3 separate regions of the Homo sapiens genome follow, and regions 1 and 3 are each linked to region 2. The links come from fine-mapping of genetic effects on gene expression. A gene starts in region 2. Each other region holds a variant in brackets. All regions are shown on one strand. Distances are between the middles of the regions. Region 1 has its middle 47 kb from the start of INTS6-AS1. Region 2 holds the start of INTS6 (integrator complex subunit 6). Region 3 has its middle 40 kb from the start of CCDC70.

Region 1 (10,093 bases), 48 kb before region 2:
TCAAAGTGGATTAAAGACATAAATATGAAAGCTAAAATGATAAAACTTCTGGAAAAAATGGGAGAAAATCTTTGTGGCAGTGGAGTATGCAAAGAAAAAGATGTTTTTGATAAGATACAAGAAAAGCATGATTCATGCTATGACAGAAATACTGAACACGTATAATAAAATAAAGTAAAATGAAATTTTAAAAGCACAATCCATACAAGAAAATAATGACAAATTTGATTTCATTAAAATTTTTTTTCTTTTTTTTTACAGAGTCTTGCTCTGTCGCCCAGGCTGGAGTGCAGTGGTGCAATCTCATCTCACTGCAAGCTCCACCTCCCAGGTTCACACCATTCATCTGCCTCAGCCTCCCAAGTAGCTGGGACTACAGGTGCCCGCCACCACGCCCAGCTAATTTTTTGTATTTTTAGTAGAGACGGGGTTTCACCGTGTTAGCCAGGATGGTCTCGATCTCCTGACCTCATGATCCGCCTGCCTCGGCCTCCCAAAGTGCTGGGATTACAGGTGTGAGCCACTGCACCTGGCCTAAATTTTGTTTTTAATTAGCTCTTCTAATGACTTCTTTTAAAATACAAAAATGCAAACCACAGACTGGAAAAATATATTTATAACACATATATTTGACAAAGGACTTTATTGAGAATATAAAACAAACTTTTACCACTCACTATTAAGAAGAAAAACAACCCAATTAAATAGGCAAAAGATTTGAACCAACACCTCACAAAGGAAGGTACGGGGAATGGCTGGTAAGTGCATGAAAATCCATCAGGGAAATGCAACTTAATCATCAAGAAAATGTAAATCCAAATCACAATAAGATATAACTTCGTGTCCATTAGAAAAACTAAAATTTAAAAAACTGGCAACCCCATCTGTGGGTGAGGATGTAAAGCAACCACCAATTTCTTATAAAACAAAATGTGCGCCCACCCTATGGCCCATCAAACTTACTCATAAGTATTTCTTACCCAAGGGAAATAAAAATATATGTTCACAAAACACCATATATTAATACAAGAATGTTCATAGCAGCTTTATTTATAATAGCCAAAACCTGGAAATAACCTGAATGTCCATCAGTAGAAGAACGGCTAAATAAATTGTGGTACGTCTTTACAAAAAAAATTACTCAACAATAAAAAAGCATATTCTTCCAATATATGCAACCATGTGGATGAATCTCGAAAACATTATGCTGAGTGAAAGAAGCCAGATACAAAAAACACACACCGTATGATTCTATTTGAAATTTTGGGAAAAACAAACTAATCAATAGTGACAGAAAGCAGATGCAGGGTGAAATCAGCTAGGATCTAGCCAGTGTTGTCTTGCTAACTAGTCATGCAAGCTTGAGCAGGTCACTAGACCTTCCTGCTCCTTCATTTCCTCAAATATAATAGATAATTAGACAAACCCAGGTCATATGTGCTAGCTGAGATTCAAGGTCTCTTCCAGTGCTAAATTCTTGGTCTCTTCTGCATCCAGACCCATGGTGATATAAAAGGAAAAAATGTATTCGTGATGCTTACATTGAATTCCTAAAACTTAGTATAATTGTCATGAAGTGGTTTTGTCAAAGAAGCGAATCATTGTCTAGATAATTTTTCTTTTGCCAGAGAAAGTTAGGAATTAATAATAAAATAGGCCAGAAAAGTGAAGAAAGGGTTCTAACTGCAGTGGCAGGAGGCCTGGGCTTTTGATAGAAAACGCTGAGTATGGTGGGGAGGGGGGGGAGGGGGGGAGGGAGGGTGGGGGGGGTTAGGCTAAGTAGCAGAAAGAAGTAACAGTTGCAAAAAAAAAAAAAAAAAAAAGAAACACAACATGCAATGAAACTGAAGGCTCAAATCACCTTCCTGCTACATCTAGGAAACTGTAAAGTTAGAACCATTCATTTCCCCAGTAACACATTATTCAAAAGCCAAAATCACGGTCAAACAAATAGACCCCAAAAAATGCATTTGAATGGGAATTTCACTTGGGTCTTCTAGAAGGGACACCTTGCCTGTTTCACGACAATCCCATAAGGGACGTACTGTGCTTGTATTTATCCTCCATTTTACAGGTGGGGAAACCGAGATACATACCAGTGTATTACCCTTCTGAAAAACAAGGCATTTTAAATTTGAAAGCACAACTGGCCTCATGGCTTTAGATAAGGGATTGTGGACCTATAATAACTAACTCGCTGGGTTGTGGTCTGGATTAAATGTGATGATGTATGTCAAGGCCCTGGCACATATTCAGTTCTCTATAAGGGGCAGTTATTACTATTAGAAGGAATAATTAATTTTAGTTGGTAAAATTTCTAAGGTGTCTTGGAGGATGCAGGATTATAAAGATCCTTGTGGCAAGACCACTCAAGACAAAGGAAATTGCTTCAGCCAAGTTAATTGTGTGATGGTGGAGGGTGTATTCTGGGAATGTGAAATAAGGAGATGGTACTGGATTTGAGGATTACAGAAGAGATGAGGCCAGAAAGCTTGGTTGGTGCTACAAATTGTGGATAGCTTGTTGACATGTAACACCAGGAGGCCTAAAAGCTTGGATCTATGGTTGTGGGGGAGCGGAGTTGAAATTTAATGAAGGTCGGACATGGGAATACAGAAAAAATAGAACGTTAGGAAGACTGGGAGGCTCAACCAGGATTTGGCAACCAATATTGGGTAGGGGAGGGTGAGAGGGGGATTCTGGAGCTGAAATGTTTCTGAGACTTCAAGTATGACTCACATCTAGCACAGTTATGACTTGAGATCCAGTGCTTCCATGAAGAAAAGGACTAGGCTTGTATGGAAGGATAAGTTCAATTCAGGATGTGCTGAGTCTGAGATGGATACAGAACAACTGATCAGAAATACAGGCCTGGGGCTGGGAGATGAGTCAGCTGGAGGCAGAAGGGGAGTTGTCCCCTAAAAGATCACAGTGAAACTACCCAAGTAGATGAGATCATTGAGAAAGTACATGTAGCATGAGGCAAATACTATCAATATTAGTAAGCATTACAGGGATGTGCATGTGCTTGGGGGACCTTGTAGTGGGAAGGGCATCATACAAAATTAAAACATCTGCACCTAAGTCCTTCCTGGGCTTTCATATGTATACTCTCATTAATCAATCTTTAACACATAACATTGTGAGGTAGAAAAAAGAGAGAAGAAGGGCAAGCGTTTGTGAAGGTTCATATTTTTGAGGTTAGGAAGAAGAGGAACTAGAAAAAGAAAGAAAGATCAAGTTTTTATAAAGTTGTAGTAAACCTCCAACAGCCAACTTATCATTGTCAGACAGAGATCCTGCCTCCAATATTCTTGAACCTTAAATGAAGATCAGGACTCATACCTAAGATGTGTGTAACAAGCTAAGGGGACATTTGAAAAGTGCCAAGTACAAGGCATAGATGACAAACACTAATCATGGATTGGGCTGGATTTGGTCCAGGAAGACTCAGAGGGAAAACATGTGGGCTGAGTCTTGAAGGACAGCAGGGCTTGGAGGAGTGGAGAGAGCAGAACAATGCAGACCAGGGGGACCCACAGCCCTAAAGGCCAAGAATTTCCTTCCTTCCTTCCTTCCTTCCTTCCTTCCTTCCTTCCTTCCTTCCTTCCTTCCTTCCTTCCTTCCTTTCCTTCCTTCCTTTCCTTCTTTCTCAGAGCCTCACTCTGTCACCCAGGCTGGAGTGCAGTGGTGCAATCTCGACTCACTGCAACCTCCGCCTCCCGGGTTCAAGCGATTCTCATACCTCAGCCTCCTGAGTAGCTGGGATTACAGGCATGCACCACCATGCCTGGCTAATTTTTGTTTTTTTAGTAGAGACGGGGTTTCACCATGTTGGCTGGGCTGGTCTCGAACTCCTGACCTCATGTGATCCGCCCACCTTGGCCTCCTAGGCTTGAGCCACTGTGTCCTGCCGAAGCCAAGAATTTTCTCTGACCTCATATTTACAACCAATGTGTACCAGAAAGTCTCATACAAACTCACAATGCTTACATACTTATGTGGTCATCAGATATGGCACAACAGTGGCTTTGATTTTCCTTTTATACAGGAGCACATTTCAGCTTTTCTTCCAGTTTCCTATTTATTTTAGTTCCAATGTTTAGTTAATACCTTTGATTTTTAAACATTAACTCTTCTAATGTCAGATTCTATGGCATTCTGAATTATTGACATTATGCCTGAAGATTTTAAAAGAACAACTAATTCTCAATTACTTCCAGTTTACTGGTCTGAATGTTGCTCCCCTCCACCTGCAACTTAGGAGGGACCTTGGAGCAAGGTCGTGTCCCAGATTGTTGAGGACGTTTGCTGCTCCTTGGCTTCCCAGCTCCTGTTCCTCTTTCTAAGAGCACTGTGAGTTGCTTGTTGGGAACTAATGGCTCCTCACTGTGGCAGTCCCAGTGGGACTGCTAGTTAAGGAAACTTGCTTCTTGCCAAGAGAG[T/C]TGGCCAATCAAATTTTATTCTAGACTAGTGTATCTTGAGCAGGGTAAGTCAAGGACTGTGTAAAAAAAAAAAAAAAAAAAAAAAAAAAAAGGACCAGGATTTCAACAATGATGCTCTGAAGAGATCATCAACCACTTTCTACCCCAGGGCTGCTCTTTCTGAGTCTCACTCTTCAGGTTGTTTTTTCATTCTGGGAGCTGTCCCACATCTTTCTCTTCTCTCTTAACTTAGCCAGGGTCAGTTTCCATTGTTTATAAAAACCAAAACAAAGCAAAACTCATTCACTGACCTGACCGGAAAACGTGATATTTTCAATTGTCTGCCAAAGTTCCCCCCACTGATGTGGAAAATCAAGAGTGATAAGGATGGTTAAAAGAGAATAATTGAGATATTGCGACAAATGATACTTTGTTGGTTTCTCTTTCAGTTACTTGAATCACTGTCGACACACTTGCTTGAAGAAGACACTGGAGAGCCATTCTGTCACCCAGGCAGGAGTGCATTCATGATAGGTAGCCTTACTATGCGGTTCTAGTCTGTACCCTGCTATCTTTTCCAGGGGATGGTTTGTGTAGAGCATGTAGAGTGGCTCCTGTGTTCTCTGGCTTCCTGGTTGAGTTTCGTCCTCCCTCTGCCTTGAGAGAGTAGGGTCTGGGTGTGAGTTCTCTTAGCTACCACCTTAAGAGGTTGCTTCAGTCTGTCTATGCCTAGTGGTGTGCTAGTAAATGTTTAACTGGCTTTCTGCAAAAAAAAAAAAAAAAGTTCTGGTTTACAGTATTTGCTGATTACCATGGTACCGTATTCCCACCATGACCGATTTTAGGCTACCAGTGTGACATCATTGAATACAAGTTGGGAAAAGATGCAGTCAGCTCTCATGTGTCCTATGAGGTGGCTCCAGCACATAGCTGTGTGTGTGTCTCCCAGCATGACTCCTCTCAAGGTGGCCCTGCACTCCACAATTCTTTCTCCTTCGAGCTCTAGGAACTTGCATGATCCCTTTGTGGTCTGCCTAATCCCTGCACATATCTTTGTAAATTGTCCCTTTGTAAGAAAACAAACTGTTCATACACATCCACTCACGTGTGCATGAGAAATTTCACAAATTACCCTAATTTGAAAGTGCCATCACATGGTGGTGGTAACTAGCCTCCAAGGTGGCCCCTAGTGATATCTTTCCTGGTACTCATGAACTTGTGTAGTCCTCTCCCATAATGTATCAGACTTGGTCAATGTGACCAGTAGAATATGGCAGAAGTGATGATGCGTTACTTCTGAGATTAGATCCTAAAAATCACTGCAGCTTCCTTCTTGTTCACATTCTCTCTCTCTCTCTCTCTCTCTATCTCCTCACCCCCTCTCTCTCCCCATTCCCTACCACCACCTCCCTGTCTCAGAGTCTCTCTGGAATTCTCACTTTGGGGAAGCCAGCTTCTGTGTCAAGCAGTCCCATGGAGAGACCCACATGGTAAGGAACTAAGGTCTGCAACAACCATGTGAGCGAGACTGAAAGCAGCTCCTCCAACCCTAGTCCGAACTTAGATGACTACAACACCTGCCAACAGGCTGACTGCAACCTCTTGAAAGACTGAGCCAGAACTAGGTAAGCTGCTCCCAGTTTCTTGACCTTTGAAGACACTGTGTGAGATAATAGATGTTGTTTGAAGTTGCTACATTTGGAGTAACTTGTTACACAGCAATAGAAAACTAATACAGGCACCCTGACTGATCACTCTGTCTTACCCTTCATATCTAGACACTCAACTCCTAAGCAAGACTCATCTGTTCACTTCTCTTATTCTCTGCTGCTGGCATCCTTGTCCAAGTCTGAACTGCTGCAACTGGTAACTGATTTCGTCAATGACTGCACTCTAGCTACAGTGATCAGTGGAAATCTGTTGCTGACATTCTTCTTATTAAAACCCTTTCCTGGCAACATATTGCTTTTAAAATTAAGATGAGAATCTTTATATGGCTCATGTACCTATGGGTGACCATAGCTTTCTTGCCTCCTCAGTTTGTCTTGGGCCGCCCTATGTACTCATGCTCACCTGCCATCTATGCTTCCACTTTACTGGTCTACTTTCTATCCTTCTATCTGCCAAGGTTCTTCCTTGCCAAGCACTGTAGGCACACAGCTTAAAACACCCTTTCCCTGCAAGCTTTTCCTACCTCCTGTCGGCTCAAATAATCTTTCAAGTCTCAGCTTAAATGTCACCTTCTGAGGAAGCCTTCCCTGGCCTCCACCAAGACAGGGTTAAGTCCACCACATTTTACTTTCAAAGCAATCTTATTCAATATTCATCCGAATTTATTGGACCTCTAACAGTCACTGTCTAGAGGTTTGGAATAGATCACATAATATTCCTTTGCCTGTGGTGAGTATGACAATTTTAATCCAAATAATGATTTGTTTTACTAACTGATTAATGCCTCTCTCCATTGTTAGATTGTAAACTCCATGTGGACAGTGACCATTGTCTGTTTGTTTCTCAATGTCTGGCTCAGAGTAGGTGTTCAATTAATATTTGTTGAAGAAATGAAATAGTGAGCTTTCAAGTTAGACAGATCTGAGTTTGAATACTTGATCTACTACTTACAAATAGTGTGACTTGGGCACAGTTTTCTCATCGATAAAATGTGAATAATGACAGTATCTGCCTCTTAGTGATGGAGTGAAGATTGAATCCCATCATCCATGCAATGTGCTTAGAACAGTGCTGGATACTTAATAAGTGCTTATGCAAATGAACCATTTATGATTGAAAACGAATTATATACTGCATTCATGTCACAGAGCTCATTTTGAGACTTTGTCCATATATTGTAATCTGCATTTTCCCAAGTCATTATTTTTCCCCAGAATTTATCATTTTGGTGTTGTTGCTCAGCTAAACTTACTCACTTCCATTCTTTCAGAAATTCTTTGACAATTTGAACAGATGCAACATTTTTTGTTTGCTATAAATTTCCCCACTTAGAGGAAAGATTTGTAACGTACATTTGGGAAAAATGGAAAATGATACACACCCTTCAGAAAGATTTGGTGTCAAGGAATTAACAGCAATAAACAGTAGTAGCTGTATCTAAAGAACATGGCAGATATAAATCAAACTGAAGGAAAAATAGGAAGTTGCATGACTACAGTGTTTGATTATCCTGATCAGGATTATTTATAGCAAATCTTGGCTTGCATTTTTTTTTGAAGGTACTAATTGCATAGAAGAAATAACTTAAAACATACCTGTCAAACTGTCAGTGGCAGGAGGCTTTATGTTTTAGTTTGTTTGGTGAGAATCCTTTATAAGAATGTATCACATGTGTATACACACACACACACACATGCCCACAAATATGATTTAATGAATAATAAATGTATTCTACCTCAGAAAGAAAAAGAGAAAGTTGAGGGAGGTTAAGCTGGGCTTCAGCTTCGTTTCTCACATAAATTTTATCAGCTATAAAAGCTATTTTTAATGTGAAGAAGAAAGTGAGGAGGAGCAAGGAGAGGGAAAATTGGAAAAAGGCAGGCTGGGTACCCAGACATATTTTTACTATGTGGCTTCGTTGTTACTTAAAATCTTATAAATTTCTAAAATGTTGAATGTTGTTCATCAAATATGTACAGATTGCCTTCTCTGTGTAAGTCACTGCTATACATGGCCTCCTGTCTAATGGGACAGATCAGACAAGCAGCAGATACTGTAACACCCTTTAGAAGGGGTTAGGTGCTGTAGCAGGAATGCATATCAAAGGCTAGAAAGGACGGAGAAAGCAGAAATCACATCAAGGGGAGGCACGTAACATTCTGGGAAGAGGTCACAGAAGGTGAGGCTGAGAAAAGTCTATTGTAGTACAGCAGAAAGTCAATACCATGCCAGAGGTGGAGACGACAGTGTACCATGAAGTGAGAAACTCAAGGAAGCTAATAGAGATTAATGGATCTTTTCTCCTAGAAATATGTTGTGTAAAAAATAGGGAGAGAGAATAGTAGATTGAGTGGTTGTCAGGGCTGAAAAAAATTTTTTCATTTTGTTTTTAAAATACAGGAGAACCAAGTAGGATTTTGGGCAATGAAAAAGAGTAAATATGTAATAAAGTATAGGCAAATTTTGGAAAAATGTTCCATACAAGGCATGAAAGACTGTGATGGACATAAGTGAATTTGTTAAGAGTTGGAAAAATATGGAACATTTCTTAACAATAGAGGGTCATCATAAGTATCATCTTAAATGGTGAAAATAGGCAATTGTAGAGATGGAAAAGACAAATACAAAAAGATAGTCTTAATCTTCTAAACAAACATAAAAAACTGAGAGGTGAGATCATCTTTTGGGAATGTGGGAATGGGGATGGGGTTTAAGAATATATAAAGTTTTGGTTCAGCTGTTACGGGGAATTTGAGAAGCAGAAAAAAATATGAATTTACAAGTATTGGCAAGCAATAGTGGGTAACTCAGATATGGAATGATCCAATCAATACTTTTTTTGTGACTTCCTGCAGCAACAGTTGATAGACTAGGAGTATATGTGATAGAATGACAGTAAGGGGAATTCTGTTTCAAGACCTCTGTGAGTCCATGGAGTAGACACCATGAGCAAAGCTTACCTTTCCATGTTGAAATTATTTATGGGCAAGACGTTATCACTGAAATTAAGTGGTGGCAGACATGTCCAAGGAATATTGTAGGGGATTCGATCCCTTAATGAATCTTGTAATGGATGAATGTGTGGAGATGGCAGCTGGTGGGCAACAGAGCAATACTGGAAAGGTGGTGATATAAGGAAATGGTGTCATCTTGTTAGAAATCTTGGAACAAGGATATATAATGGCTGTGTTCAGGAGAGACATTTATGTCCCCTCTCCAAAGGGCCTGTTTTGCTATGATGTAAATATTGGGTCATGTGTATTTTCATATTAAACTTTTTGTAAATAAACTTTTGTAACAGTCAAAAAACAAAACAAAAGAATGACAGTAAGGCATCCTAACTTGGGGACTGAAAAGGGAAGTATGAATGTAAAATTCAGGGAGATTCTAGCAATCTTCAGAAATGGGTCAGATTGCCTTAGGAAGAATTTAATCTGCTGTCACTGGAGGGATTTAAGCAAGGCTGGGTGACCACTTCAGGCTGTTGCTTAGGGTTCTTGAGTACTGAATAAGTGGTTGGACAACAGGACTTTCTACCCCTTTTATTCTTACATTTTGTGATTCCAGAGTAACATGAAGAGCCTCAATGAATTGGCTGAGCCTGTGGAAGAGGAAAGCAAGCAAGTTCTCAAGCCAAGGCTCCCCTCCAAACCTACTGAATCAAATAACGCTGGGAGCAAGACTTTGGCATGCATGTTAAAACTTCCACATTTGATTTTGCTGCATAGCCAGGATTGAAAACCACAGATATGTAAAATGCTAAGTGTTATTCCAGGCCCTTTACAATGTCTGCCTGGTTTAATTACATGTGTTTAAATATGAGGTCAAATGTAAATAATTTTTGGAAGATCTGCCACTTTGGATTTTTCATTCCACTGTTTTTTCTCTGAGTATGGATAATTGAGAACTACTCACTCAGAGAAGTGAAGAGCATGTGAAATAACATAATCTGTATGGAAGTCATTCATTCACAATTAATCAATAGATACATACACTCA
Region 2 (10,093 bases):
GGCAGAAGCCCTGCCCGCTTCCAAGTTGGAAGAGTGGGAGTCCTGCCCTCCTGAGTGCAGCTGCAGCCACCCAGTCATGGTTGTGGACCCATTCATCTCCGGACAAGTGGAGGGTAAGCAAGGCAAAGAGGTGCTTTGCTGAGCGACAGAACAGCTCAGAGGAGACCTGAGGGCAATGGGTAGCTTCTTTCTGCAGGCAAGTCATCCCAATAAGTGTCCAGCTCTTAGCAGAGAGGAGACCCACAGTGGGTAGTTCCTCTCAGCAGGCAAGTCATCCCGTCATCTTCTCAGCTCTCCACAGAGAGAAGACCCACTCTCAGGGGACCAGGAAGCTCCCTGCTCCCGCAGGCTTGGAAGTGCCTGCTCCCACTGCCTGGCCTCTCCCCGCTCCCAGCACCCGCTCTGATTTCAGAGCAAAGTTGTGACTAAGCCTGGGTGCTGTCACGACCCGACCAGGTGTGCACGTGCTTGGGGCAGCATTGACACGCAAGCCCCATGCTGCCTCAGTCCCCTCTGGACTTTGGGTGCTGATGAGCACAGGAGGGAGGCAGGCCGAGGCGGGAATAAGGACATCTCAGTGAAGGCCTGTAGGTACCACTTAGCATGAACAACCTGGGCGCCATGGGCACTGTGGATGGCAGGTTAATGGCAGCAGGATCCACACAGGCTCCTGGGCGGAAAGGGGTGGGTCCCCGGTAACGCCAGGGGTCAGGCTGCCAGTTCCATGCAACGGAGTGAGAACTTATGGTGCTTTCTCCAGGCCTGCCCATGGCTGCGCCATGGACCAATCAGCACACACTTCTTCCTCTCAGAAGCCCATAAAAACCCTGGAGTGAACCAGACTTGGGCAGACAATGAGATGACCTGCTTGCAGACAGGAGCTACCCACTGTGGGTCTATGGACACTGTGGGTCTCCTCTGTGGAGAGCTGAGCAGATGACAGGACCACCTGCCTGCTGAGAGGAACTACCCATTGTGGGTCTCCTCTCTGCTGAGAGCTGGACACTTATTGGGATGACCTGCCTGCAGAAAGAAGCTACTCATTGCCCTCAGGTCTCCTCTGAGCTGTTCTGTCACTCAACAAAGCACCTCTTTGCCTTGCTCACCCTCCACTTGTCCACATACCTCATTCTTCCTGGATGTGGGACAATAACTCGGGACCTGCCAAATGGCATGGCTGAAAGAGCTGTAACACAAACGGGCTGAAATATGCCCCTTGCTTGCCATGTTGTGGGCAACACAACAAGAGAAGAGAGAAGAAGAGAAGAAGAAAGGAAAGAGAAGGGGGAAGAGAGGAGAGAAGAGCTGTGGCCCTTTAGGAAGCCTAGACCTAGGAGCTCCCTGTGACAACCTCTTTGGGGCTCTGCAGCTCCTGGCATCTCCAAGCTTCCAGGTGCCACTGCATTCCCTGGTGCCAGCTGTGGAAGCTGCTTGCAGTACACCTGGACCAGCCACAGCCTTGCAAGGGGCCAGCCCCTAGAGCTGCCCGCCCTCCTGCAGCTGGCATGCCGGGCTGTATACAGTGGCCGGACCCCATGCTTGCTCGCTCACACACCCCTCGCTGCTCCGCACCTGGCTTGCACTTGGCAGGTGTGGGATCCAGGCCGTAGTATGAGCAGAGTGCAGCCTGCTGGGACTGGTGGGCAGAATGAGCCCGACCAAAATTCGGGCAGAGGTGCCATTTTTCCAGCTGGAAAAGTGACACTCCAAGGATCCTGTGACAATGGCTCCACTGAAAAATGATTTCGAATAACTGTAATAATAGGTAAGGTCATTGTGAACGCATGTTAATCTTCAGTAGTCTAGTTTGATTTCTTTCAAACATTGCTTCTACTTAGCAACGCAATTGAAAAATAAATCTCCAATTTATAGGGGAAAAAAAACCTCCATAGATTGGAATAAAGGCCCTCTACTGTCTAGATCTCACCTGTGTTTCTAGATCTTGTACTATTCTACATGCACCTGTTGCTCCAACCTAGCTGAACTTCACTGTTCCTCAGGAAGCCCTCAGCAATGCTGTCTTAACTTCCTTTCTTCACATTTTCAATGTCGGGAAGATCTTTTCACTAGCAGCTTCCCCTTCCTTTACCCATATCCAAATCCTACCAGTCCTTTAAGACAGTGTTTCTTAAAACTGAATAATGAACAGACTCCTAAAATAAATTCTTATGATCCTAGAGAATGTTTTCAGTAGGCTGGGGTCCACAGACCAGTTTGAAAAGCACAAATATAAAGAACTAAAGAGCAATTGTATAAAATTATGCAAATGATCAAGTTGAAAGACAAATTTCATCTTTATAACTGGTAAAATAACTCGTATTTTGCCATAGAACTCTGATTCTTATCTTCAGATCTATGATCCGTTTAAGAAACACTAAGGCAAAGCTGAAACCTTGGAAAATGTTCCTGCATCACCCCAAGGTAATACATTTTTATTTTTTCTGATTTGGTGTCTAACAACTTTCTGCCTTGGAGTAGCTAGTAATATGTAGCATTTTCCTAGAAAACATAAGCTCTTTGAAGACAGGGACCACATTTTATTTATTTTTTATATGCACCACACCTAATACACAGTACATCCTCAGCAAGTACTGGCTGTAAAGCCTATATTCCATGCTCTTATTTTGTAGTCCAAATCACTTTAAAAATCACACTTCTTCTATTGTTCATACTCATAGAAGAGCATATTACTCAAATAGCTCTGCTATAAATTAACAGTAAGTTTCAGAAGTTATACCAAGTCACGAGACTCAGATTTTTAAAAAGTGCCACAAAGTGTCTCTTCTGTGTCAATGTTAATAGAACCCTTTCTTTAAATGATCAGTAGGCAAATTAAGAATTTCCGGATAAAGAACAAACTCTGGAAAAACAAAGCTAGTGGGAGAGGCCCTGTAAATACCTACCTAGTCTTACAAGGGCTGTCTCTAACTCAGCTTGTATTTTAGGCAGCGTCTTCAGTTTTTCAACTAATGTGTTTGAGAAAACTGTTTTCCTCGGACATGCAGGCGTGGACTCCTTACTTCAGGTAAGGTGACAGCAGCTTGACAGAGAGTGCCTTCCCTCCCACGGCATTTGGGACGAGGCTGAAGGAAAGACACAGGCGGGGTTACGGGAAACCCATTCTCTGCGCCATCTGGGCAAGCTGAAGTCAGTTTTTCCGCTTTCTCACGAGGTAATGGATTATCATGGGCTCAGGTCCCCTTCAGCTCTGAAACAGGTATTCTATGGCTCTAAGTAAACACGGCAAGAGACAGGTTATTTCTTTGGTAAGATCAGTTGTATTTCCCAGAGAATAAAACGGGCAACAAACCATTTATCGATATGTGAGTCTTCCCCCTAGGCCCTAGCTATTTGGGGTTGGATAAAGAAAAAGAGGGTTTGCTTCCTTTTTGGCGGGTCCTCCAATGACAGGGCTCCTGGCCCGCTGCGGGTCCAACTCCCACCTCTCGTGGCTCCCCCGAGGCCGAGCGAGGCTCCGTGCGAGGACAGCCCCTCAACCGCACTCCCCAGAGGGAGCGCTGGGACTCGCGGAGGAGATTAGTCCCCGGTCATAAACAACCTCTCACTTCCCCTCCCCCGCCCGCGCCCGCTCGCGCCGGGGCGGCGCGCCGGGGCGGCCCTCCGAGGCCCAGGAACCTCCTCCGGCGCCCGCGAGGCCCCGAGTCCTCCTCCGGAGGGCGGCTGCGGGCCTGCCCTCTTCTCCTAACCAGGTGTTTGTCCACTTTACTCAACCCTTCTTACTCGTCCACGCTACGGCCACCTCACAGGGGCGGCTGACGCCAGCCCCTTTTTCCCTCCCCTCGACCCCTATCACCTCCAACAGCCAAGGAGAGGCCGGCGGCCCTGACGCGCAGGCTCACCGCCGCGGCCGCCCCGCGCGCGCGGACGCGGCCCCCGCCCCCACCTCGCGGTCCTTCCGCAGTCCGGCCCCGCCCCTTCCCGAAGCCCGCCTCCGGGTCGGCCCGCCCGCCCGCTCGCGCGCACCCGACGCCCCGCCTCTGCGCGTGCTCAATAACTGTCCCCGGAGCCGGCCTACAAGCTTCCCCCGCCCCTGAGCTGTTTAAATATGCTAATGAAAGGATAGGGCCTGACCAGTAGAACGGCGAGGCGGTGTATCACGTGGCTCGGGGACGTGTCAGGGGCGGAGCCTCCGCAGCCCCTGCCCGAGTTAAAACCGGAGTGTGAGAGAGAAAAGCGCTTCAGTAGCGAGAGGGGCTGAGAAAGTGGTGACACCGCCGGGGTGCGGAGGGAGTCCCTGAAACTTCTCCCAACAGCCCCAGGGCCAATCTTCCCTCAGCCCACTCCCCTCTTCGCCAGCTCCCAGGTCCCCACTCCTGTACCGGGGGTGGGGTGGGGAGCCAGGCCCGTCTCCCGCTGGGACACACACAGGGGCCGGGAGCGGGGACGGGACCCCCGAGGCGGGGGGGACGAACCGACAGACAGACGGCTGGGCGCCCGCCCCAGCGGGCAGGCAGGCAGGAGGAGGCGGAGGCGGGGGTACGACGGGGAGCACTGGGTCTGGGGAGTTTCCTCTCAACTATCGGGGGAGAAACTCCCCGCAGCCGGAGGAAAGACCCAGACAGTGTTTTCCTCCCGGGGGCCGTGCTCCCCCGCCCCGCGTAGCGGCGGTCGCCGCCACCGGCGCCTCCACCTCTACCATCTCCTCTTTCTCCACCACCTCGGGCCCCGGTGTCCCCGGCCAGCACTATGCCCATCTTACTGTTCCTGATAGACACGTCTGCCTCTATGAACCAGCGCAGCCATCTGGGCACCACCTACCTGGACACGGCCAAAGGCGCGGTAGAGACCTTCATGAAGGTACCGACTGACCGAGCCCGGGCGGCGACCCCGGCCCGGCGGCCCGCGGGCGGCAGGGTGGGGGAGGGCGGCCGGGGCGGGGGTGTCGGGGACCTGACTGCGGGAGCTGCCGGGCTCGGGGACCCCCTCCCCCACCGCGCGGGCGGGCGGGCGCTGCGAGCCGGGTTCGGCCGGGGCCCGGGCTCCGGCCCCGGGCGGTGTGTGGGGAGCGATCTGTGTGTGGGGGACGGCGTGGAGGGGTGGCCGCTGCGTGTGCGGTACTGTGGGGGCGGCGGGGCCGCTGGGCGCCCCTTCTCCGCCTCGTAACCTCGCCTCTGTGCTTCCCTGTCGCCCGCCCTGTTCCTCCTCCCGTCCCGCAGCTCCGTGCCCGGGACCCTGCCAGCAGAGGAGACAGGTATATGCTGGTCACTTTCGAAGAGCCGCCCTATGCTATCAAGGTAACAGCCCTCGCCCTCCCCCTTTCCTCCCTTCCCTTCCCTGTTCCTTCCTCGCTCGCCCTCCCCGCCCCCCCATTCACCCTTCATTATGCTCCCCTCCCCCACCCGCTGCGCTCCCAGCCGCTGAGGTCTCTTCCCTGCGGGCTCCCACCCCCTCCCCCGCTCGGCAGCGTCCTAGCGCGGCGCGGAGTCGCGGGGCCACCGCCGTCCCCTCCCGGCCCGGCCCGGCAGCGGCGGCGGCGGCGGCGGCGGCGGCGCTGCTATCAACATGGCCGACATTTCCCCTCCGCGGCGTGAGCGGCAGCAATGAACTGTGGGGGATATTTATTCAAGTTAGCCGGAGTGACAGCCGGGCCCGGCCGCGCACAGCCCCGGTTTGCATTAAAGGGGAATCGGCCCGGCCGGCCCGGAAGCCAGATGCGGGGCTGCCAGGATTGGTCTTGTCAGATTCGTCCTAAGAGGGCCGGTGGGACAGCTGCAGGTTAACTTCCTAAGTCCGGCTCCCATCTGCTTCCACTAGTACCTTCACATACCCAAATTTTGGGTATTAGATTAGGTAGTAAATTTGTCAGTGAAGTTATAAAGTATTAAGGCAGTTAACTACCAAAACCTAGAGAGGAAGCTGGGTTATTCCTGGGCCACCTTTGGAAGAGAGTTTCCTCAGCAGCGGTACAGTATTAACACGTTAACCAAGCCAAACCAACCAAAAGTGAAGCTGCTACTTGGTGAACGTCAGATTATAACGGCTCTGTGTACATGGCTTTAAAAAATGAAAAAAAAAAATCTTACATTTTTCTTTTCAGGCTGGATGGAAAGAAAACCATGCAACGTTTATGAATGAATTGAAAAACCTTCAGGCTGAAGGACTTACGACTCTTGGCCAATCCCTAAGGACAGCTTTTGATTTATTAAATTTAAATAGATTAGTAACTGGCATAGACAACTATGGGCAGGTAGGTTGAATAATAAGGTGGCAAAATAGTTGATTTTTCATTTTGTGGAAAAACACAGTCCAGTCCAAAAACTACATAACATGAAATGCAAGTATAAAACATTCCAAATTAAAATAGAATATGCACATTGTTCAAAGGCAAAACTCTTACCCTACTATATATATTTTACATCCCTCATTTTTTCCCCCTCTAAAATGCATTGGTATTCAGGATTAGAATCTGAAACTTTTGCTATAAAGTTGACATACATTGGTTTTAATCCCTTGAAAGTTCAGTAAAGACCTAAAAGGAAAAGCATCCTACCACACCACACTCATGTTGTATGTGCAACTATTATAGTGGCTTAGAGACACTAGTTCGTGTTCTTCGTTTCTATATTAGTAAAGATGTTAGAGGAAATTAATCTGTTTGTTGCATCAGGGTTTAATGTGACCATGTTGTATAACTATTCTGAAAGGTAAGAAGTTTTTCACTGGAGTACAGTCACTGGCTGAGAACATTTAAGTTTTCTTTTGAAGCATACACAGTTAACAACTATTGCAGGAAGAACTCTGAATTAAATTTCAGGCCCAGAGTTTTGATTTAAACTCCAAACCCTTGGAAAAAAAGACTGCTGGAAAATATGAAAGAACCCTTCGTTTCTTAACCCCCACAAGTCCTTTTATTGCACTTACTTTCATGTATTTGAGGATGAGAGGAGCTTTAAATCAACAATAATTCACTAAGGAATAATGCAAGGTGGTCTATTGTAACATTTTATGATATTATTGCCCTGGAAATAAAAGATACTGAACAATGTATAATGTTACATGTAACAAAGGAATATTATTTCCAAGGAGCTCAGTTCTTATGTTGTAGTGAAAAGCACTATTCCTAATTATATATTGGGTATATGTTGTATTTTCCCAAGTCCCACAGTCCCTAGTTTTGTGAGTTTCGTACATTTCAGGGAAATTCTTTCTGTGACTACAACTTTTATTTGCTTCCTATTGAAGGAAATTGACTTGTTTCTGTTTTAGGAAATTTTAAGCTTCTTAGGGATAACTTCAGTGCTTAAGTGTCTTTGGAAATAACTGAATTTAGTTCTATAACATTTAAAATGTACACTGAAATTCAGAGTGAGCTTACCAAATTGAACTTCCAACGTTTAGTTAGGTAAATATGTACTTTCTTACCACATTAATACTTTTATGTTTTTCCCATCTCTGCTGCTTTTATTTTGCAACTTTTAATAATTTAGGTAGATTTGCAATGAACTTTTTGGTTTGTTTCTGTAAAATAGTAGTGGATTTCCTTCTCTTTTATATTCCTTTGTGATATGTAGTGCAACACAGTCTTACTGCTTAAGGTTTTCATCCTTACCTCTTTGAGTTCAAAGAGATATTTAAAACTTGCCATTATTTGGTTACCTTTATTTGGTTGTCATGTTGTTAGTGTATGGCAGAACTATTAGTTTCCTCTTTTTCTGCATCACATTTCATAAGTGGTCAAGGCATTTGGACATATTCACCTCCTATTACCTATTAAAAATACTTCTTAAAGATTGCTTCCTTCGAAAAACTGCTTGTCATGGAGAGGCTGAGGACATTTGTAATTTAAACCTGTATTTTCCTTTTCCCAGTTGATATCTGCCCCCAGAGAACACTTTAGTTCTTGTCTATAAGGCTTACCAAAAGTTTGCGGGAAAGGTGGTCCTGTGCTGTTACCACTTTGACCAAGAGAAGAACCTGGAGATTGGGATGTTTTTGCATGTCAGGATTTATTAATTCAATAACAGAGAGGGATGATGCTTCTCACTTATTCTGATGAATCAGCAAAGATTGCAAAGCATAATATTAATGCTTATGTCTTGAATTGGCACATTAAAAATGACACTAGCATTAAAATAAGCCACTGTTTTCAAATGAAAATGATAATTTGAGTAAAGAGTATTGAATTGGAAGAAAACATTCTTCCAGAAGATTTTTTTCATCATAAAACTATCTGATTTAAACATTTCATGTTTTCTATTCACAACAAGGATAAATGATTAGGAATTTTGGATGTCTCAAATATTTAATACTGAATATTGTTCATGTGTTTTCTTCTTTGTAAAAGTACTTTGTATCTGCCTGTTTGCTGTGGAATACTTTTATTTTGTAACTTCAATGTCTTTACATAAGTATTTCCCCTTTCCTGCTCTATACTAGGATCTGTGGTGTTCACAGTACTAAATACTTGTATGTAACGTTAGTAGTTGAAGGAAATGAGAAAAGATTAGGTGGAAGATAGAACGTATATATTTTATAGAACATCTAAAAACTTTAATGTTCTGAATTACTTTCTTAAATGTCTGGGTTAATATATATATTTGTATATTTATGTAGATATCCACCATTCTCCCACATATATGCACATATATGATTTTTCATAACTAATTACAAGACTATTAAATCTATATTGCATTTGTTAACTTAGTTAACATACCTACAGATAAAACATCTTTGAATTATTAGCTAGGATGCTATCAGAATTTGCAGGGCATTAGTAAGGTTAAGTAACTGAGAAAAAAGAATGGTTCTTAGTGAATGTTTTCCTCAAGCACTTTGGGTATCCCACTAAAAAATTCCATGCCTACAGACATTGTTATAAATATTTAATTTTGATAATCAGTACCATTTACTGATATTTCTACAGTAATGGAGCAATGTATAGCCTTTAGTCAATCTTTTCCTTTATAGCAGTACTTTAAGTTGCATATCATTGCAGATAAATTTGATACATAAGTTTTTCACGTGTGTTCAACAGAGTTTCAAATAATGCTGATCCTTTGAGACCTGCTGAAAGTCTGAAGCAGCCTTAATATCTAAAATTAGGAAATGTATAAAATGTGAGAGGTCTGATTAAAGTTTTATATGTAGATGAGTTAATTTTCTTATTGTTACAGGTCATCCTGTTTTCCATCAATATATATGTATATTTTTTTTGAGACAGAGTTTCTCTCTTGTTGCCGAGGCTGGAGTGCAGTGGCGCGATCTCGGCTCACCGCAGCCTCCTCCTCCTGGGTTCAAGCCATTCTCATGCTTCAGCCTCCTGAGCAGCTGGGATTACAGGCTTGAGCCACCATGCCTGGTTAATTTTGTATTTTTAGTAGAGACTGGGTTTCTCTATGTTGGTCAGGCTGGTCTCGAACTCCTGAACTCAGGTGATCTGCCCACCTTGGCCTCCCAAAGTGCTAGGATTACAGGCGTGAGCCACAGCACCCGGCCCGATATTTTCAACATTGTCTTTTTTTTTTTTTTTTTTTTTTTTCAGTAAATTATGTTAGTTAAGATTAGCCAATATATCTTTACTCTGGCCTGCAAGTCCGTTTTTGTTACTGACCTGATTCCACACCCCTGCTACCTGAAGTATGTTAGTACTGATTAAATTGTTCCAGGAGTTAGAATGGCACCTTTCCTACTATGTGCCCTTGGTGAAGACAATCCTTGACAGATATCTTAAAAGGAGATAAAATATGTGCTTAATTTTTTGAGGATTTTCTATGGTGAATGTTTACCTCATTGAAAAATGGTGGCTTTCGTACAATATCAAATTTAATGATTCTCAGGGAAAAGAATTTTAACCAATTTTATTTTTGAGCATAAAGGTCTATTTTGTAAACTTAGGAGATAATACAGTTATAGTTCTAATACTACTTTTTTTTCCCTTTACCTAAATAGTACCCATTTAATAGGTAGTGTGAAATACAGGCTTCTTTTTGAAGGCTGGCAGGTGAAGTAGTGAGAACTCCATTTCCATTTGGGTGCTTGGTTTCTCTTAGATTATCAACAAATGTATGAATAAGAGTTTGATATTTATTAAGCTATAGACATCTTTTCAAATGAAAGTAAGTTAATTACTATA
Region 3 (10,093 bases), 450 kb before region 2:
GTGGGAGGGGAGGGTCATTGCAGTTGTTTTTGCAAACAACCTGCTACAGAAGATGTGGCTTCAGAGCACTGCAAAGGCGTTTCTGAACAGACCAGATCACATAGGAAGAGCAGAAAGAAGTGAGTTCCAGCTCATTCGTCTTTGCTAATGTGGAGTCAGGGTATAGCTTCCCTTTCACTGTTGGTCCCCAGCATCAAGGGTCAGTTGGATGTTTGTCCAGGAGCCTGCAGGGACTGTTTGTACTTCTAGAGGAGAGTTGGCATGGCTTTGGGTTGCTGTCTCTGAAACTGCCCTAGGGCCTGGGATCCCGGGGAGTGCCTGCCTGTGCTGGCAGGGAGCCCAGGCCTGTTTGCAAACTGTTTGAATGCCTCAGGGTCAGGGTCTCTCATGGACATATTATTTTCTTATCAGGAGTTAAAATAACTCTAGAACTTCTCCTGTAGAAATGCAGATGCTTTATTACAATGAAAGTACCATTTGTAAAGCATATGCAATTAGGCCAATAACAACCAACATTTACTCCCCACTTTAGGGCCCATGAAGCACTTTCTCATATGTTCTTCCTTGTTCTCACAGTCACCTGTGGTTAGGCCTCATTATCCTAGTTTTTCATATGAGAATACTGAAGCTCTAGGGGCTCCCTGTCTTGCTGGGGGCTCAAAATTGGCTTGGGGCCCTAGGAGTTGCCCTGGGCCCAAGGGTGGAGCTATGGGAGCCCTACAAAGCCTGCCCTGTTTCAGTGAATCCCTTCTCTCCCCCATAACTGCTCATTCTGTGTGGCTGCACTCAATAGATTATTTCACCCTTTGAATTAGATGCCTCAGGGAGTCCCCTTAGCGGGCTAAGTTAACCTTTGCAGGGGGTACTGACATGCCCAGGTACAGCCCAGCCCTGCATGCTGCTCTTTGCTCCAGGGACCCCAGCCTGGTCCACCATTTGCTAGGAGAAGATTTCAGTCCCTCCAGAACACACAGCCTGTAAGGAGCCACACTGGCTCCCAGAGCCCGAGCCCCAAGTCATCACTGGGTACAGTGCACGTTCCTCTGCTGTGCAGTGGTGGAGCTTCATCCTGGTGAGTCATTTGTTCTGCGTCTAGGTGTCTCAGTGAGACTCCTACCTGTCTGCTTCAGAGCCACAGGTGAAGCCTTCATTCTCAATCCGATTGAAGAAGAGAAGGCGGCATCACAGCTGAGTTGCTCTCCATCATAGAACCATGGGGCATTGTCCTCAGACACACGCTGACATTAACCGAGGCTAATGAGGCAGAGCCTCTCATAATAGCATTCTGTTTCTTTGGAAACCAAGGTGTAGTTTTTTAAGTGTCGCATGGCCCTTGATTACAATTTGCATTTCCTAGCACTTATTCTACCATTTTTACAGGGACCTGTGGCAGGCAGAGGGGCTCTGGGCAGCTTCCCTGCAGGATTCCACTTCCTGCTTGGGTCGACCGCGCCGCTGCGAGGGAGGGCTTGCCCCTTGCCTCCCTGCTCTCTGGGTGTTTCCTTTGTGAAGGGAGGGACCTGGCATGCTAGAAAGCATCTCAAAGCCCTGCTGAAGAGGAACTCCGGCTTCCCTTGGGTTGCTCTGAAGAAGGTGCTCTCCAAATGAGAGGGCCTCAGGAAGACAGTGGCATCTCCCTGACTGGGTGAGTCAGGTGCAGCTCTAGCCGAGGTGAGTGGGACCTGCCGTGTCCGAGGTGGTGACAGCAGGCACTGAGACTGCTCTGGAATCATGGCTCTCTGAGGTTGTTGCTCTGAAGTCCTGCCTCTGGGCCCTCGTCCAGTGTCGTGACAGCTCTTTTCTCTGGAAGAGGGAGGACAGTCTCTCTCCCTGCACGAACTGCCTTCAGCCTGACATTTCTTCTCCTGCTTAGGGCCGTTCTCTGTTGACTGCTTCGTGTTGTCTGCTGTTTCTCTTAGCTCAATGCTTCTCAACGAGGGTGCTTTTGACCTCCCCCAGGAGCATTTGGTAATGTCCACAGATATTTTACACAGTAACTACTGGAGGTGTGCTACTGGCGTCAAGTGGTTGGAGGGCAGGGATGCTGTTAAACACCCCACAGCACACAGAACAGACTCCCACAGCAATTATCTATTCCAAAATGTCAGTACTAATGAGGTTAAGAAACACTACTAATGATGATGTTCCCCTACCTGGTAAATAAAATTCAAGGTTTTCAGCCTCCACATCAGTACAGAATGAATGTTTCTTAATTGAAATGCTTGGAGCCAGAAGTGTTTTAGATTTAGGATTTTGGAATATTTGCATTATATTTGCTGGTTGAGCATTCCCAAACTGAAAATCTAAAATCTAAAATGCTCCAATGAGCATTTCCTTTGAGCATGACCTTTGAGCATCATATTGATACTCAAAAAGTTGCAGAATTTTGAGCATTTCAGATTTTTGGATTGCTCAACCTGTACTTTTCACAATATCTTGAAAACGGACCATGCTTATCTTTTCTCTTTTGATCTAGAGCCTCCTTCTTTTCCACGTCCATACCATGAATTCCTATTCAAGCCCAGAGAAAATTATTCATTACTACTATGCATTAGCTGCTGAAGGCCAGGTGATGTTTTCCCAGATCTGACTCATCATGATCATGATCATCAATTATCATTATCATCATCATCAACAACAATTACCTTAGGGTCATCATAAGAATTGCATATAAGCTAGCCACCAAGCAGTCATCAGTCATCTGCCTTTAGCCCAGTGCTACCTGAATTCAGTTTCTGTCATCATGTATTTCTTAATTTCAAAATAGGCAGCAGCACTAAATCTGGTCCATGGGCTCATTAACATCATCATCATCATCATCATTAATATTACCATCATTGTCATCATCACTGCAAAGCAGGCAACAAGCAGTCATTAAGCTCATGCTGATTCTGATGCTGATGGTGAATGAGAAGCAGCACTGCAGAAAACCACCTCATGCCTAGCATCCCAGGGCCACAGGTGCTGTGTGTTAGATTGAGTGTTCACTTGTCCAGTGTGAATGTATTTTTGTTAAGAGTTATTGGCCTTTGAGTTTCTGGTGACCAGATGCTTCTTTCTAAACACACACACACACACACACACACACACACGTGGAAGACTGTTGGAGAAACCCAAATGGTGTCATAGGAGGCAGGTGTGAGAAGACACTTTGGTTGCACAACCAGGTATGATTCTGCCAGAGCAGAAGACCCTATATGGTTCTCTTTTCTGCCCCAGCACTGCCTCATTATGGCTATGATAGGTTTATTGAAGCTAAAGTTTGGGCATTCTGGGGCAGCCTTTGCCCCACACCCACACGAGTCTTTTTCATTTTTCGGTTGCCACTGAAGTCTGGAAATAGCACTCTGCCTTTTCCTCTGGCCCCATAGAAACCGGGACTTCTGGGTGTTTAACTTAGCATCTGACTCCATTAGATGCTCAGGGTCTCCTGCACTTACACCTAGGGATAGGAAAAAGGGGTGTTCTGGGGAGAGTAGGGGGAGCAGTTTGCCCTCTATTTGGTGGCTTTCCTTGTACAGTGGAGAGAGCAGCCAGAACCTGAAGTGACAACTGAGACATCGTCATCTGACGTAGAGTCTCTCTTCCCTCCCTGACCTCGTTGGTGTGCCACCTCTCCCTCCCTCCCATTTCCAACAGCATGCTTAGGAATGAGTTATGAAGTGTCTTATTGGAAACCAAGACCTCAATGGCAATGAAGGGAAGACACTATAGTTAGTTATTATTGATCATCTCTACCTGCACTTTCTATATTTGCAAGCACTTTTTGGGACTTAGTGAGTAATAAATAAAGTGTCTCTAGATCACCTTGCTGCTTCCCACTGCTGCTGCCTCGTGCATCCAGTTCTAGTTGTGTACCTCCTGGATACACACACTAAGGAGGTGAGACCTTCAAAAGAAATGCAAAATATTTCCACAATTGTGTTTGTGTACAAACTGACCTGTCAAAACCAAAACTATATTTAGGTACTAGATTATAATCAACACCCCCAGTGGATGCTATTGGTGCCTTGCCCAGGGCCCCTTTACCAGGCGGATGCACTCATCTCCCAGCTTTGAGTATTGCTCACCGCAGCCACCTGCTTCCTGAAGAATT[G/T]CCCTTGCAGAGCAGAAGCCACCATGCTAGGAAGTTATCCACTCCCTCGGCATCACATAGCCAATAACCAATTGCTGTCAGGGCTGTGTTAGTTATCTGTTTCTCAAAATAAATTACTCCAAAACTTAGTGCCTTAAACGGACAATGAATATTTGTTATTTCACAGTCTGTGTGTGTCAGAGATTTGGGAGCAGCTTAGCAGAATGGTTCCCGTTTGGGTTTCTCAGGAGGTTGCCCACAGACTGTCCATCAGGGCTGCAAGTGACCTGCAGGCTTGACTGAGGCAGGTGGCCTTGCTTCTGGGGTGGCTCACTGGCCTGGCTGGCAAGGTGGGGCTGGTTGTTGGCAGAATGCTCAGTCCCTCTAACCATGGGACTCTCCCAAGTTCAGCTTCTAGAGTAGCTATGATAACATACTTTCTATAAAACCTATATTCTAAAATGTATTTAATAAAATAACTTTCCTCTAATTTTTAAATCTGCAACATTGCAGCAGTTCATTTTAGACATTGAGAGGCTGAACATTTTAGATTCTGGTTCTAAAGGCATGTGGGTGCCCTCAACATCAATAGCAGCAGCTAATAATTCCCAAAGCTTTTCCAGGCGCCAGGCCGTGAGAAGGGCAAAATGTGTTGTGATTCTGTTGAAGTAATGCCTACCACCCCTTCAGTCCCACACTGAAAATGTAACAAGGCAACTGGGAAACTGTCTTCAACATCAGTGCTTTTTTTCATTTTGCTTCTCTTGATTTTTACATCTTACAAAACTGAGAATCCACCTATATTTATTCTTTCATCCAATGCACGTTGGCTTCTGACCTCACCCCTGAAATGGCTTCTCCAGAGGTCTGCAGTAACCCCCCTGATACCACATCCCAAGTGATTCTTTTCAGTTTTTTTATTACATGACCTTTCCATGGAGCTTGACCCCAGTGGATAACTTCCCAAGCTCCTCCTCCTTGAAACTCTCCTCTCTTGGATTTTGAGCTTGGATGACAGAGTGAGAAAGGCCTGGCGTTTTTGCTCTGGACTGGGTAACCCAATGAAGCTATGTGGATTTTCTGCACAAATTTGGAATGTAAACACACCCAATGGGGCTTCTGCCCAGAGGATTGTAGCTAGGCTGGGCTGGAGGTAGGGAAAGCAGGGAGGAGGCTACGTGTTTGTGGGAGGAGGCTGATAAAGCCTGAACTCGGGGAGGCAGTGAGCCTTAGGAGAGCAGGTAGATTCTAGATACTTAGGAGAGCCACTGTCACAGAGCTTTGTAAAGGGACTTGGGATGGAGTGGGCACTGGGGGAGGGCAGAAAGGAAAATAGAGACACTGAAGATGTGTCCAGGCTTCTCCGGGGGTAGTTAGTAATGCCATTGACCCAAGTCAACTGATGTATTTCTGTGTTTTTGTTGGATTCTTCTTCATTTTTGACTTTCCTTGGCTATATGAATTTCCAGAAGTACCTGTTCCAGGGGCAACTGACAACTGAGAGGGGTGTGAGGCATGGGAGGGCGGGTGGGGCACAGGCAGCTCCACCGGGCGCCACCCCTCTAGCAGGAGTGGTTTCTTTATATGTACCAGGGATATTTCTGCATTGAACTCTAGACCATGTGGAACTTGGCTTTTTAGCAGGTCAAATGCCAGGCACAACTTTCTAGCTGGACCAGATGCAGCCACACTCAGGAACCGTGCTTCATTAAAGTGTGTGTGGACCCAGGTTCTCTTCCTTCACAATTTTGTGAGTACAGATGAGGTTGTGTGGACATTAACATCACAAATATGAGAAGGCTGGGCCTCACTTGAAAAAAAAAGAAAAGTTTTATTGAGATATAATTCACGTCATAGATGTCACCCCTCTAAAGTTTATAATTCAGTGGTTTTTGGTATATTCATAGAATTGTGCAACCATCACCACTTTAACATTTTAGAACATTTTCACCACCCTTCTCTCCCACAAAACTCTGTACTCATTAGGAGTCATGCCTTTCTCTTTCCTGGCAACCTTGTATCTACTTTTTGTCTCTACAGAATTGTCTATTCTGAGCATTTCCTATAAATGGAACCATAAAACGTGTGGCTTTTTGTGTCTGGCTTCTTATACTTAGCATAATGATTTAAAAGTTCACCTGTGTTGTAGCATGTATCAGTAATACATCATTCATTTTTATTGCTGGATAATAATCCATTTTATGGATATATCACATTTTGTTTGTCCACTCATTCGTTGATGGATACTTGGGTTGTTTCCATTTTTTTTTGGCTACTATGAATAATGCTGACATGAACATTTGCATACAAGTCTTTGTGTGGACTTATATTTCATTTCTCTTGGAGAGACACCTGGGAGTGGAATTGCTAGGCTATTATGGTAACTGTATCTTTACATTAACATTGAAGAACTGACACATGGGCTGCATCTTTTTTCTGATCCCATCAATGATGCATGAGAGTTCCAATTTCTCCACATCTTCACCAACACTGTTATTGTCTGTCTTTTTTATTTCAGTGCATATGAAGTGGTATGTCATTGTGGTTTTGATTTGTATTTCCTTGATGATTAGTGTTGAGCATCTTTCCATGGTCATTTGTATATCCTCTTTGGAGAAATGTCTATTTAACTCATTTGCTTATTTTTAAATTGGGTTGTCCTTTTTTTGTTGATTTGTAAGAGTTAATTTATTCTGGACTCCAGTCCCTTATCAGATCTGTGACTTGCAAGTATCTTCTCCCATTTTGTGGCTGTCTTTTCACTTTCTTGATTATGTGCTTTAAACCACAAAAGATTTTTATTTTGAAGAAGTCCGATTTACATTTTTTTTCTTTTTTTGCCTGTGATTTCAGTGTCTAAGAAACCATTGCCTAATTCAAGGTATAAAGATTTATTCCCAGGTTTTCTCCTAAGAGTTCCATAGTTTTAACTCTTGCATGTAAGACTATGACCCATATTGAGTTAATTTTTGTATGTGGTTTGTAATAGGAGTCCAACTTCATTCTTTTATAGGTGAATATCCAGTTGTCCCAGCACCACTTATTGAAAAGACTGTTCATCTCCCATATGATTGCCTAGGCTTGTCTAAATCAATTGTCCATAAAAGTAAAGATTTATTTCTATTCATAATTTAATAAAAATGTAGTTCTATTCCATTAAGCTACATGTCTAGCCTTTTCTAGTGCCATGCGGTCTTAATTACTATAGCTTTGCATTAAGATCTGAAATAGAGAAACTTGAGTCCCCCAGTTTTGTTGTAAGATTGTTTCGGCTATTCTGGATCCCTTGCATTTTTATATTAACTTTAGGGTCAGTTTGTCAATTTCTACATAGAAGCCAGATGACATTTTTGAGAGGATAGTGTTGAATCTGTTCATCAATTTGGGAAATATTGCCGTCTTAATACTTAAGTCTTCTGATTCATGAACATGGCATGTCTTTCCACTTATTTAGGCCTTCTTTAATTTCTTTCATGATATCTTACAATTTTTAGTGTATAAGACTTGCATTTTCTTTGCAAGTGCCAAATGTTGCTGATTAGAAGTACACTGGAAAAACCTTTCAGTCGCTATACCCTTTTCTGGCTTTTATTACTGTTTTTAATTGACACATAATAACTGTATATATTTATGGGATACAGTGTGATTATGAAGCCTTGCACCTATGTTGTTTATCTCAAGTATTTTTTCTTCTAGATGCTATTGTAAATTGTTTCCTTGATTTCATCTTCAGATTATTCATCGCTAGTATATAGAAATACAATCGATTTTTTATATATTGACCTCATATCCTGCAACTTTACTGTACTTGTTCATTGGTTCTGAAAGCGTGTTTTGTGGATTTTCCAGATAAGAGATCATATCATCTGTGAATAGAGATAGTTTCATTTACTTACCATTATTCTTACTAAATGAATTAATAAGTAAGAGCTGTGGGAGTAAGACATGCAGTCTAGACAGTCTCTAGAAGGTGGCCTTGACAAGGCCAGCAGTGATCAGCAGTGGATGAGAACAGGTTTAGTACTGTGAGATTGGAGCAGGGATTGAGGCAGAGAAAGTGAGGAGGAATGACAGGCAGGTACAAGGTAGAATCAAGTGAGTGGTAGATCAGGAAATCCTAGATAACAGGTTGCCGGTGGCACAGTCATTTTTATTACCTTTTTAGCATGCTGGGTGCCTCTCCTGGAACACATTTAAAGGACCCAAAGGACTCCTTCCAACAGTGCCGTCTTAGCAGGAAAAAGATATAAGTCTAAGCCATTCTTGTTGGCTTTGTGCAGCCAGGATAGGCTGTGAAGTAGGCAAAGGGCAGAAGAGGAGAGAGAACTAACATTTATTATCTAGTATGTGCCAACATTTTGCATATATTGTTTAGTTTAACCCTTACATTACTCCTACTTTTGCAAATGTGAATCTGATGTTTGTTTTGTAAAACATTCAGAAAATGCATGATATTTATGTAGTGGTAGCTGCCATCACACCATAAGTCAGTTGCCCATTTCTCCATCCATGAGGCAGCCATCCTCTCTATTATAAGGAGCTCATTTCTCAATTAGTTCTTTGAAAACTGAAAAGCATGTAGATATAGAACAATATCCTGCATTAGTGCTTCTTAACCAGGAGTGTGTCAGGAGAAAAATCCCCAGGAGTTTCTTGTATTTCTGCATGTTTATGAGCAGGGGCACTGCACTTTTGTTCTAATTATCTTTTTATTTTATTTTATTTATTTATTTATTTATTTTTGAGATGGAGTCTCGCTCTGTTACCAGACTGGAGTGTAGTGCCACAGTCTCTGCTTACTGCAGCCTCTGCCTCCCAGGTTCAAGCGATTCTCCTGCCTCAGCCAGTAACTGGGACTACAGGTGCACGCCACCAAGCCTGGCTAATTTTTGTATTTTTAGTAGAGATGGGGTTTCACCATGTTGGCCAGGATGGTCTCAATCTCTTGACCTTGTGATCCACCCACCTCAGCCTCCCAAAGTGCTGGAATTACAGGCGTGAGCCACCGCGCCCAGCCCTTTTTTTTTTTTTTTGAGATGGAGTCTCACCCTGTCACCCAGGCTGTAGTGCAATGGCATGATCTTGGCTCACTGCAACCTCCGCCTCCTGGGTTCAAGTGATTTTCTTGCCTCAGCCTCCTGAGTAGCTGGGATTACAGGCACGCACCACCATGCCTGGCTAATTTTTGTATTTTCAGTAGAGACAGAGTTTAACCATGTTGGCCAGGCTGGTCTCCAACTCCTGACCTCAGGTGATATACCCACCTCGGCCTCCCAAAGTACTGGGACTACAGGCATGAGCCACTGCGCCCAGCCTTGTTCTAGTTATCTTTTCAACTATTTTTTTCAAGAAGATTATAAAGGAAATCATCTTGGCAGACAAAAATAAGAGTCCCCCTCCAGGGAAGACAGATTTTCTTACTGTGTATGATAATAAAGATAATTTTGGCCAGGCACAGTGGCTCATGCCTGTAATCCCAGCACTTTGGAAGTCTGAGGCAGGCAGGTCACTTGAGCCCAGGAGTTCAAGATCAGCCTGGGCAACATAATGAGACTCCATCTCTACAAAAAAAAAAAAAAAAAAAAAAAAAAAAAAAATTAGCCAGACATGGTGGCATGCATGTGTGGTCCCAGCTACTTTGGAGGCTGAGATAGGATGGTTGCTTGAGCCTAGGTCAGGGCTACAGTGAGTCATGATGGCACCACAGCAAGACCCTGTCTCCAAAAAATAAAAAAAAGACAATGTCTTACTATGGTGTAAAAGTTGGGCAGGTTTACCTGCAGTCCTTTCAGCCTTTCAAAAGATTTGGGTTTCTGAAACTTGGGGCTCCTCTGCTGTGATGAACCCAATGTGTGCTCTGTATTCACCTGGGCCACTCTGCATCACCCTGTGGTGCCAGAGAACAAAGGGAACCAACCTGAACATGAAGTTTATGCTGCTTGCTGTGCTTTGTTTCTGACTCAGGAGTCTTGTGTCTTCTGACGGTGTACATGGAACTGCGGCAGACTAACTCCTGTC

Evidence for each region. PIP is the estimated chance that this variant, and not a neighbour inherited with it, causes the effect. A credible set is the group of variants that fine-mapping cannot tell apart.
Region 1: its variant is the best candidate, but not a certain one, in a credible set for the expression of INTS6 in whole blood (TOPMed, PIP 0.87).
Region 3: its variant is the best candidate, but not a certain one, in a credible set for the expression of INTS6 in whole blood (TOPMed, PIP 0.81).

Annotation. Positions count from the first base shown.
Region 1 is chr13:51,495,199-51,505,291 of GRCh38, reverse strand. It overlaps the pseudogene SNRPGP11. Among named protein-coding and RNA genes, the nearest start is that of INTS6-AS1, 47 kb to the right of the region's middle. RefSeq lists an enhancer at 2,643-2,792. The variant T/C (reference allele first, on the strand shown) is at 4,446.
Region 2 is chr13:51,447,140-51,457,232 of GRCh38, reverse strand. It overlaps INTS6 (integrator complex subunit 6), which reads left to right and starts at 4,197. Exons shown (of 18, transcript NM_012141.3): 1 at 4,197-4,818; 2 at 5,178-5,255; 3 at 6,059-6,208. The coding sequence starts at 4,708. INTS6-AS1 (INTS6 antisense RNA 1) reads right to left here and starts at 3,888. Exons shown (of 2, transcript NR_103812.1): 1 at 3,815-3,888; 2 at 2,517-3,230. RefSeq lists silencers at 3,432-3,751, 3,842-4,041, 4,272-4,531, 4,772-5,041, 5,052-5,171 and 3 more and an enhancer at 4,162-4,211.
Region 3 is chr13:51,896,942-51,907,034 of GRCh38, reverse strand. It overlaps a transcript of TMEM272 not described here. Among named protein-coding and RNA genes, the nearest start is that of CCDC70, 40 kb to the right of the region's middle. The variant G/T (reference allele first, on the strand shown) is at 4,097.